3 linked regions of the Homo sapiens genome follow. The protein of the gene in region 1 interacts with the protein of each later gene in a pairwise test. Each region holds a gene or a part of one and is shown in the gene's direction. Other genes may lie near its edges. The genes, in order: ST6GAL2, CD53 and TIMMDC1.

The links.
Region 2: the proteins of ST6GAL2 (region 1) and CD53 interact in binary tests that used the Homo sapiens proteins (3 or more experiments, as listed by UniProt).
Region 3: the proteins of ST6GAL2 (region 1) and TIMMDC1 interact in binary tests that used the Homo sapiens proteins (3 or more experiments, as listed by UniProt).

Annotation. Positions count from the first base shown.
Region 1 is NC_000002.12:106,884,812-106,888,641, reverse strand, and holds the start of ST6GAL2 (beta-galactoside alpha-2,6-sialyltransferase 2), read left to right. Parts: upstream 1-2,474; 5' UTR 2,475-2,549; exon of another isoform or gene 2,550-2,775; intron 2,776-3,405; exon of another isoform or gene 3,406-3,467; intron 3,468-3,830. UniProt on the Homo sapiens protein: Transfers sialic acid from the donor of substrate CMP-sialic acid to galactose containing acceptor substrates.
Region 2 is NC_000001.11:110,871,167-110,874,766, forward strand, and holds the start of CD53 (leukocyte surface antigen CD53), read left to right. Parts: upstream 1-1,981; 5' UTR 1,982-2,082; intron 2,083-3,600. UniProt on the Homo sapiens protein: Structural component of specialized membrane microdomains known as tetraspanin-enriched microdomains (TERMs), which act as platforms for receptor clustering and signaling.
Region 3 is NC_000003.12:119,522,317-119,525,590, forward strand, and holds the end of TIMMDC1 (complex I assembly factor TIMMDC1, mitochondrial isoform 1 precursor), read left to right. Parts: intron 1-1,289; coding exon 1,290-1,440; 3' UTR 1,441-2,774; downstream 2,775-3,274.

The DNA of each region.
Region 1 (3,830 bases):
ATGTATTTCACATTTATAAAATATAATTTTTCTTTTTTTTTTTTTTTTTTTTTTTTTTTTTTTTGAGACGGAGTCTCGCTCTGTCGCCCAGGCCGGACTGCGGACTGCAGTGGCGCAATCTCGGCTCACTGCAAGCTCCGCTTCCCGGGTTCACGCCATTCTCCTGCCTCAGCCTCCCGAGTAGCTGGGACTACAGGCGCCTGCCACCGCGCCCGGCTAATTTTTTGTATTTTTAGTAGAGACGGGGTTTCACCTTGTTAGCCAGGATGGTCTCGATCTCCTGACCTCATGATCCACCCGCCTCGGCCTCCCAAAGTGCTGGGATTACAGGCGTGAGCCACCGCGCCCGGCCATAATTTTTCTTTTTTTAAAAAATATCTGTGTAACACATTGTTCATTCAGGCAGTTCCGCAGAATTCCATGTGTCAGACATAATTAATACAATTGGGGAAATACTGAGTAAGCGTTTTCGGCCCACACTTTTGTTTGAACACAGTGCATTATACCCACTCGATTTTAGTTTAATTCCCGTGCTGTTTTACATTTCTGTAAACTCTTTGAGGGAGTTCTGGGCGCCCACTGTCTAGCTCAGAGTTCCAGGCTAAGGTAGGCACTAATGAATGCTGAATGAATTGGGTAGCCAGTTAATTGCTTTTTCCCCCCTAAAAAAAAAGTCTAAATTACTTGAATAAAAGTATTTGCGGATTTTTAAATAATACATTTAATGGCAGATCTCTGTCTCCAAAACGTGTGTCCTTCTAGCGACTGAGGGTGTGGGGTGGGGTGAGGGGTGACTAACCAGTCCCCCTGAGATGGGCCCAACCTTAGCAATATTATCCATCTACCTGGGATTCCCCTACACCTGAACAGCTCTTTGGGTCCGCGAGAGAACCAGCGGGGTGGGGCACCCAATGCCAGGAGTGCGCGCGGAGAGACACGCTGAAGTTCACAGGAGAGTATTTACCAGCAAACAAAGGGCGGCGCGGTTTGGGGTCCTAGGACCAGCTGCCGCCGTCTCGAGAAAACGCAAGGGCCGCGGTGACAAGTGGACATTCCGCACGCGACCAGACCGACACTCGATGGGCACCTCCCCGCGGCCCCGCCCGCAGGCTCCAGCTGCCCAGCTCGCAGCCGCCCACTGGCTCCGGAGGCTGCTTCAACCACTTGTCCCGCCGGCTTCTACCCCAAGAACTTTCCGTCCCTCTTGGGGTTGGGGACCGGCAGTGTGGAGGGGCGGGCAGGTGGGGGTCTCCAGGGAGCACCGTCACCGGACTTGGCGAGCTACCCTTCCCAAATGAAAGGTGGCCCGCTCCCAAGTCCATCCCATATCCTTAGAGAAGCTCTGGGAGCGAGGGCCAGGCGGCAGTGCGGAGCCTGGTTGAGCGAGATGAACAAAGGGAGCTAGCGAGCCGGGGAGGATGCTGCGCTCCCCTGCGCCCCACCCAGCCGGCTGCCAGGCGCTGCCAGGCGCGCAGGTAGCCCGGCCTTCCGCGCTGGCGGGGGGAGGTGTTGGACAGGGTACACAAAGACTCACTTCCGCCGGGGCAGGCGCCGGGACTCCCTCCTGGCCGCCCACAGCCTGTGCGCATTCCTGCATTCCTGCCGCCGCCCGGGACCCGAGTGCCCCGGAGGTGTCCAGGCGCGGTGCCAGGCGGGTACTGTGCAGGTAACCTTCGGAAGAACTAGGGCTGGATGGAGGCGGCGGCCGGGGAGAAACACGCCTTTTTAGGCAGCCGTGCTGCCCCGCACCGCCCCACGCAGCCCAAGTCTGCAGTCACTCTCCGCGACAAGCAGAAATCCGCGCGCAGCCAGGGAGCGCCCCGCCTGCGCTCGCCGGCGGGCCGAGCTGCCGGGCCGGGGGCGCGGGGAGGGGGCAGCCCAACTTCCCAGTGCCCGGCTCCCGCCAGCTAGGTGAGCCTGGAGCGGGAAGGATGAAAGGGATCGCGGAGAGGGAGGGGGCTCTGGGGCGAGCGGAGCTCGGGGGCGGGGCGCGGCGCAGCCTCGGTGCGTGGGCCGGGAACCGCCGCCTCTCCCCGGGGCTCGGGGCCGCGGTTCCTCTGGCCGCGGGAGCCGCCGCCGCGCTGCCCGAAACAATGAGGCGTGCAGCGCGGGGCTGAGCGTAGCCTCCCGCCGGCTTTGAGGCCGAGCCACCCGCTGTGCCCCGCCGCCCGCGCTTGCAGCTGCCGCCGGCGCGGAGCAGCGCTGGCCCCGGAGAGGTGATCCCGCAGGCCGCCTGGGACGGGAGCGCGGGGCAGCTCCGAGACCCCACGGTGGCAGGAGGAGGACTCGAGCCTGCGGCAGGACGACTCCCGCCGCGCACTCGCCTTCTGCAGCCCCCAAGTTCCGCGGCGTGAGTCGGGGACCCCGGCCAGGGTCCCAGCTCTAGCGGGCGCCAGCGTGAGTGTGGGAGCGCGTAGCGCGCGCACCCGAGCGGCTGCCGGGGAATAAAATGTGACACGCACGCCTTGGACTCCAGTGCCGCGCTGCCAGGGGGAGCACCGAGCACCACGGTGTCGTGCGCTTCGAGGCGCGGCGTGGGAAGAAGGCTGGTAAGGGAGGGCACTGGGTAAGGGTTGGCGACGCCTTTCTTGGTGGCGCTGCAGCCTCCGCGCTGCTGTGCGCGGAGTTACACTCCGTGTTTAGGAGCGAGACCCGTGTGTGGGGAATGTTGAAGGTGGTTTGGGGAAAAGCAGGAAATTCTGGAGAAGCGAACGGGAGGACGGCTTGCGCTTTGGGGACGGGCGGATACAGTTGTGCCCCTGTGGCTCAGTAAAGGTGATCTTTTATTTTGGCTCTTTTGGCTCTGGAAGGGAGTGAAGATTTTTGTCTTTCTTCAGCCAACCCCCGTACAAAACTGCACTTCTTAAAGGTTAAAGTGTGTTCTGTTCATTTCTGGTTCTCTGTGGCTATAATGTTTGGGGTAGTAGGGATCTTTAGAATCCTAAATACCCGAGTGTTAATTCTTATGTAGTTGGCAGGCGGCAAACTCCGCTTTTGGGTTTACTTTCCGCGGTGTTACGGAGTGGATATTTGATGCATTCTTTTGAGTAGGGAGTGTGACGTCCATCTCATTCGGATTTGCCGGTTCTGTGTTGGGGGACTGAGTGAAGTTAAACTCAATGGCTCCCGCAAGTGCTGCCTTCCAAAGAGCTGAATAGCTGTGTTTGGAGAAGCTGTGCTTTCCAGGAATTTAAATGAGACTTTTTGTGATTGCCTTCCAGGTCTCTCCTCCTAGTACCATATTTGTTTTGTCAGGCTGAACTTTCAAAGCTGTTTTGTAATCTGAGAAGCACTTTTGGGGGGAAAGTAATGCTTGGCTGGATTTTTGTGAACTTATTTTTATTGGACATGCGAAAAATTTGGCGAGAGGCAAACCATATTTGGTTGAAATCATTGTCTTTTGCACCACTGCCGTTCTGACCATAAAGGGGCATGCTGACCCTCCTCGCCGAGGACTGCCTGCTTGGGTGAGGGGGGTCTTTGGTGGGCTGGAAGCACATTTTGTATTTAGAGAACTTTCTGCACACTTGAAAAACCCCATGCTGGTTACTTTGATGCTTCCCTTTTTTGAAATTCTGATCAACATTTTTTGCCAACTTGAAATATAATTTATGACCAAGGAAGAATTCCAATAAAGTGAAGTGCTATATATATATGATGTATATGTATATACATACACATATGTATATATGTGTGTGTGTGTATGTATATATATATATATATATATATATATATGCGCTGCAAATTTAGGGTTAAAACTTTTTTTAAAAGGAAAACTGATGTGTGGCCTTGAACCTGTTTTTACCCACTCTCCTTCCCCCATTATTTTT
Region 2 (3,600 bases), on another chromosome or scaffold:
TGCATTTTAGAAGGCTCTCCTCCCTTCTTCCTGAGGACAGACTGAAGAAACATCCAAGGTGGTCTTGAAGGACACTGGGATCCTGTAACACAGGTAAAAGATAAAGACTAATGTAATTTCTATGGGGTTGGAGAGAGGTGGTCTGGTTTGAGAAATATTTAGGCAAAAGCATAACTGACAGGACTTGGTGGCTGATAATAGGTGGTGGTGTGGGAGAGAGAGTAGCTTAAGAGGACACCTGGTTTCTCATGAACGTGGCTGAAAGGCCAGTCAGGCCTTTCCTGGATGGTGGACATGGTGGGAGGAGCAGGCTTGAGTGTGGGGATGCCAAGTTAATCAAACTGAAGTTGGATATTGGATTTGAGGTGCCTGGGAGAGAGTGGAGCTCAAAGGAGAGATCATGGCATCTATATAGATTTGTGAATCTTTGGAACAGACAGATAGTAATTAGAGCCATCAGAATGGGTGAGATAATTAGGAAAATATGAGTTCAGCCAGAAGCCTCTCCTCAGCCCCACCACTTCAGGGACCTGTAAGCATGGCAGCAGCTCTGAGTGAGGGTCAGTGATTCCAGCCGAGGTGCAGAGACTTTTTAATAGCATTCCCTAAAGTGTAGTTACACTGAAAAATTGTTCCCCAAGAGAAACTACACACACACACACACACACACACACACACACACCACACAGTTCCATGCTCAGATAAGTTTGGAGAAATCTATATATTATTTCCCCTGCTTAGAGAATATTAAGGACTGACAAGTTCTGCAGTAAAGACCTTTTTACCTTCATTTAATTCAGTTTTCCCCACAAGACAGCCCTGGCTGGAGATTACTCTGGATCTGAATGTCTCAGGGTGAAGGAAGCGGGAGACAGCTAGCTTTCCCAGAGGCATGCCCGCAAGTCAGCACCGCAGAGTGCATCTATCTGTTCATTTATAAGATGAAAACATTGGGGCCCAGTGATTGCTTCCAAGTTTCATAGTTAGCTAGTGATACATTTGGGTTGTCACATACTCCTTTGACCCAATCTAAGAAAATTCCAGTGATGCAGCATAGTGAAACCAGAAACACATTTTTCAAAATATATTGATCACAGTGTTTCTCAAAAGGCCTTCTCTGTGACCTTGAATTTTAATCCTACCTCTGACATGTCTTAGTTGTATGAGCTTGGGCAAATTTTCTAACCTCTTTGAGCGCCTGTTTTCTTGTATATAAATAAGGATGTAACAGTAACCAGTAGGATTATTATTAGGTGTTACCATTAATAAACTGAGGCTGACAGATTGAGACTTGCTCAAGATCTCACAGCTAAAAGAGATAAAGCTGGAACTGAAACTCAGATCTTTGGCTCCAAATGTGGTGTTTCCTGTACTAACCAAATCATTTCTACCAGTGCCCCTGGGATTATGCCTTGGGGACTCACCTTAAGACAGTCTTGCTCTCGAGACAGAGAAGTCTGCAAATGGTGTCCAATTCAAGTCTAGAGACTGGCTGAAGCCAGACAGAGGGAGTATGAGGAGGGGGCAGAGAATCTTCAGAAAGACATTCCAAAGTCTCGGGCCTAGAAAATGTTTAGAAATATTGGTTCCTGTGTTCCCCTCCAGTCTGTCTACCTGAATGGGAAACTGGTGGTGGGGCCAGGCATACTTCTTTTTGAACAAATACACAGTTAATTCTGAGATGCCACCTTGATTGAGAAGCACTGTCCTTTTCTAAGCAAAAATCATTGCCAAATTACCCTAGAATCCACCACTGCTCACAGATCTGTGCCTGAACCAACTTGGTTTTGAAGTTTTCTTTTGTTTCACAAAACTAGTTTAGGGTGGGCTGTGAGAGGAAGCTTCTAAAAAGCCACTGGGAAAGTACTAAATCTCTGAGACTAAAGAGGGCGGACTCAGCCTCACTTCCTCCTTCTTCTCATCTGGGCTTCCTGTCGTCACAGCATGATCATATTTTTTCACCCTTCACTTCTCCTTTTACACAAATAGCCCCGGATATCTGTGTTACCAGCCTTGTCTCGGCCACCTCAAGGATAATCACTAAATTCTGCCGAAAGGACTGAGGAACGGTGCCTGGAAAAGGTAAGGTTGATGACGTTTTAACTTGGCTTGCTGTCTAATGTGGGGTAGGGCGTATTCTTAGGGGTCTCCATATACCTCTCTAGTAACCATAAAATCTCCGGCAACTTCTCTTTCACAAATATTTAGTGCACAAAGTAAAACAGATTAGCAAGATCCTAGTAACATCCCCAAAGGCAATCAGGCCAGAAATACTTTTACTTAATCAGGTTCCCATTATCTAAATCTCTGAGTCGAGGCATTCACATGCCTTAATTGCTTCAGAGCTTGAATTACTCTGTGTAGTAATTCCTGATGCCTGGAGCTTTCTATGCGAGATGACATTGGGGAGATTTCCTATGTGCTCTGGTCTTCAGAAAATTGGTCTTGTGATTTTAAAGTGAGGAAAGAACCCACAGCCAGAGCTGTCTTTAGAAAGACAGCTAGAAGACACAGTTCTTTTTCATTTGAGAAAATTTCAAAAGTAAATTTAGTGACTCCCACTGTGGTTCTTCAAAGCCACTAAATAGAAAGGTGGCTAAAAATCAAAACACCAGGATGTGCTCAGTAACTGTATTTTAAAAGGTGAAAGCTAGACATCTCTAAAGGATGCATAGATTGTTGGCTTTTAAGGAGCAGGAAGCACATTGGGATCCTCAGCATTTCCCCAAATTATCCTTGGTGTACAAAACATGACCACTGATAAATGTCACATGAAATGCACGTATAAAATGCAATCCCCAAAACTTGATACTGCAGTAATTTCCAATCATGTGCTGTAACTAATGACTGAGGTTGCATGGACTCAGCAAAGTGTTAGCAGAGCTTCGGTCCTGACTCTCTGTGACCACCATCGGAAACTCTATGTAAGAGCTTTCTTCTTCCAAGACCTGTGAGAATTTCACTTGATTATGCCCTGGAGCAGAAAGGAGAAAGTTCTCTTTGATTACACCCACCCATCTAAGTATGAGGATTGGGAACAGGGCAGAGGGCTCTAGATTTCCAAGAGGGGTGGGGACGGGGAGAGGGCTCTGGATTCCCAAAACACCTCAGAGTTTATTGAGCCTTGTATTAAAAAATAAAAAGCAGTCTTTTAAATAAATTCACTTAATAATCAAGTGGTAGGTGCCTCCTGAGGCCAGGCACTGTGCTTTGGGAATTGTGGGGGAGGGAGATGAAAAGGTAGAAGGAGAATATTTGTCTAGCAAACAGTCCTACTCTTAAGGAACTCCCATGGGAGATAAGAGATATCATACTATGCGTGTGCTTTGGAAGAAAGCTGAGAAAAAGCAAACTCCCAGCTGCTGGACAAACAAAGAGGTTTTGCTTTCTCAATCTTGAGGAGAATCTGTACTATTTTGAAATTGTGGTTGAATGGGAGCAAAGACTGAACTGAAACATTATTTCCTGTGATGTTTCCTGTGTGGGCCAGTTAAGAACACTTAATTTTTAAATGAAAGGATTGGGTACCTTTATATTCATGAGGAATGATTCCAAGTTCATGCCTTCACAGCTATGGTTACCACCACCTAAGTGACCTCA
Region 3 (3,274 bases), on another chromosome or scaffold:
CTGCATGTTCTGTTGCTCATGTGGGAGCTAAAAAATGGGCTCATAGAAGTAAAGAGTAGAATTATGGTTACTGGAGGCTGAGGAGGGGACAGGGAAAGGCATAAGAAGAGGAGATTTAAGGGATTGATTAATGAATACAAAATTATAACTAGATCGGAGGCATAAATTCTAGTGTTCTGTGGCACTGTAGGATGACTATAGTTAATAATTTATTGTATATTTTCAAGTAGCTGGAAGAGAGGATATTTGAATGGTCCCAGCAGTATGAAATGATAAATGTTTGAGGTGATGCATATGCTAATTACCCTGATTTGATCATTACACATTGTATATGTACAAAAATATCACTTTGTACTTCATAAATATGTACAATTATTAGTATCAATTTTAAGACAGATGGATAAAAACAACTTGAATCATAGTAATGAAAGAATACTTTGGCAGAATGAAAGTGTCAAAATTGTATAGCATATACACGTATGGGTGTTTGTGTGTGTGTGTGTGTGTGTGTGTGTGTGTGAGATATTTCTAAGGAGAGTTAATAAACGTTTAAGTGTCTTGTATGTGCCTACTTCTTCGCTTGAAAATAATACAGGAAAATCAAACAAATTGAGAGTCAAAAAAATTGCCTCAATGAGCAGAAAATGTAGAAAACTGACTATAGAGATATAGAAGAACAAATGACCAAATCTGTGAAGAGTTGAGAAGAAACTTTAATCCCGATAATCACTTAAGGAAGACACTAATACTTGATTTAGAAACAGAACTGATCTATTATTTGGAAATTAGTTTTTAACTCTTCATAAATATAAATCTATAGTTTTGTTCTATCTGACTTTTCTCTACCTTGGATTACCATTGTTATAGCCTTTGACCAGTTCCTAAAAGGTCTGGTCACAGAGTTTAAGAGTGGCAGGGTACTTACATTCCCCCAGCCCTGGGAGCAAGAGGACAGCGAGACTTCAAGCCTTCACACCTTAGCACAAAGTGTGTCAGTTCCCACACATCACTCCTGTGAGAACTCTAGGACCCAGCATACTAGGAATATCTTATGGATCAGAGCTGTCACCACAACGGTATCCATTATGGTAATGTGGAAATCATAATTGGCTTGTGAGGTTAGGAGAGAGAAGAAAGTTACTGTATTTGAAGTTCAGGGAGCAGTATTTGCTTCTAAATTGCTATACCAAAGCAGGGAGGAAAAGACAAATGCTATCCTTTTTGTTTTAAATCTGTAAGAACTAAAGAAATGGAGCAGTATTTGATTTATCCTTTTTATCTGATTACAGGAAAGGCAGACTACAAGTTACTGAGCACCTCCCTGAGAAAATTGAAAGTAGTTTACAGGAAGATGAACCTGAGAATGATGCTAAGAAAATTGAAGCACTGCTAAACCTTCCTAGAAACCCTTCAGTAATAGATAAACAAGACAAGGACTGAAAGTGCTCTGAACTTGAAACTCACTGGAGAGCTGAAGGGAGCTGCCATGTCCGATGAATGCCAACAGACAGGCCACTCTTTGGTCAGCCTGCTGACAAATTTAAGTGCTGGTACCTGTGGTGGCAGTGGCTTGCTCTTGTCTTTTTCTTTTCTTTTTAACTAAGAATGGGGCTGTTGTACTCTCACTTTACTTATCCTTAAATTTAAATACATACTTATGTTTGTATTAATCTATCAATATATGCATACATGAATATATCCACCCACCTAGATTTTAAGCAGTAAATAAAACATTTCGCAAAAGATTAAAGTTGAATTTTACAGTTCGTATATTCATGTGGTCCTTTGAAAGGGTATTCTAGAAATCACTGGAAAGAGGAGAGGAAAGAACCAGGTAGGCAAATGGTCTGTGAAACCCTTGGGTCCTGGAAGCAGTGTGAGTGTAAATGTGTAGTGTTTGGTTTCATCTAAATAAACAAAGATGATTTCTTTGACACTTGAAATAAAATACAAATTCAACAAAAAGTAGATCAGCATTATTAAAGAAACGGTTCAACTTTGTTTCTTCCCTTAGTATTGCTGACAAAGTATCTGCTGTAGAATACAGGAATTACTTAGAATAGAAACATAGTCATCACAACTGTTACTAAATGGAAAAGAAAAGAATTATTGAGTTAAGTATTCCTGTCAATACGGGAAACACTGCTAGTACCTTATGTTGGTGTTAGACCTCTCTGCCCTACACTGAGAATATAGTTTTACACAGGAGCAAGGTTTGTGAAGCAGCATAGTGAGGTAGCTAAAGCCATGGGCTGGCTCTAAAGGCTTTAAATCCCAGCCATGTGGCTTAGCTGCCATGAGATGTGCATTTGAGAAATGTTGTCTTCTTTTGCTGTTCAACTCCAGATTTTCAGATGATAATGTGATTATCCCAGCTTAAGTTGCGTCCACTTCTGGTCTAGTGAATTGTGGAAGGCAGTTTTAGAGAAAGGAGTCATGAGTAACATGAACAGCAGTTGGCTATGTCTTTCCAGTTCTCTGCTGATGTCAGAAAGACCCAGAAATACCAAGGAGAAAAAGCCATCTTAGGGATCTAAGGAGGCCCTATGGAAAGTTACTACCTTAGACATTTGAAGATAGCTTACTGCTTAGTACATACACTGTAAACAACGATCTCATTTTAAATGAGAACTTTCTCATAAATATTTTACAAATGAGGTCAAACTAGCATAAAGCCATTTAAAGAGATTATCAGTCCAATATGAACCAGTTAAGTCTTTGGACTATCCCTTTCCTCCTTGACTACTGCTTTGACGTACCTAAATCATTCGTCTTACATGTCAGAGGAAATTAGTTTTGGATAGTTCTCCTTTCTGCTGTACCTCATGGGGGAGTGAGAGAGCAGCAATAGAGAACACAATGAAAAAAATGGAATACTGGGTAAACACCAATAATATTTCCATTAGTCTCCTAAAGATGTTCATGCCATACTTCCTATGCATTACATTGGGCTTTTGTAAACAGCAGCATAAAATCTTCTACTCTGACATTAGGAAATCAGATAGTCTCTGAAGTTGACCTGTTATTGGACAAATTCTACTTCCAGCAGCACTTTGCCTGACATATATATGTATATACCAGTTAACAGGCCACAGTCAAACTGATAAAGGGAAAGAGCACCAGAGTTAGGAAATCTGGGTTCTGGCGCTGGCCTTTATAATTCGGGTCACCTCCCTGGGCCTCAGTGCCTTTGTCATTAATAACACTGGTATTCTCTAAAGTCCCTTCCAGAACTCAAGAATTCTGCATTTCAAAACACCTTGATCAAGGTCAC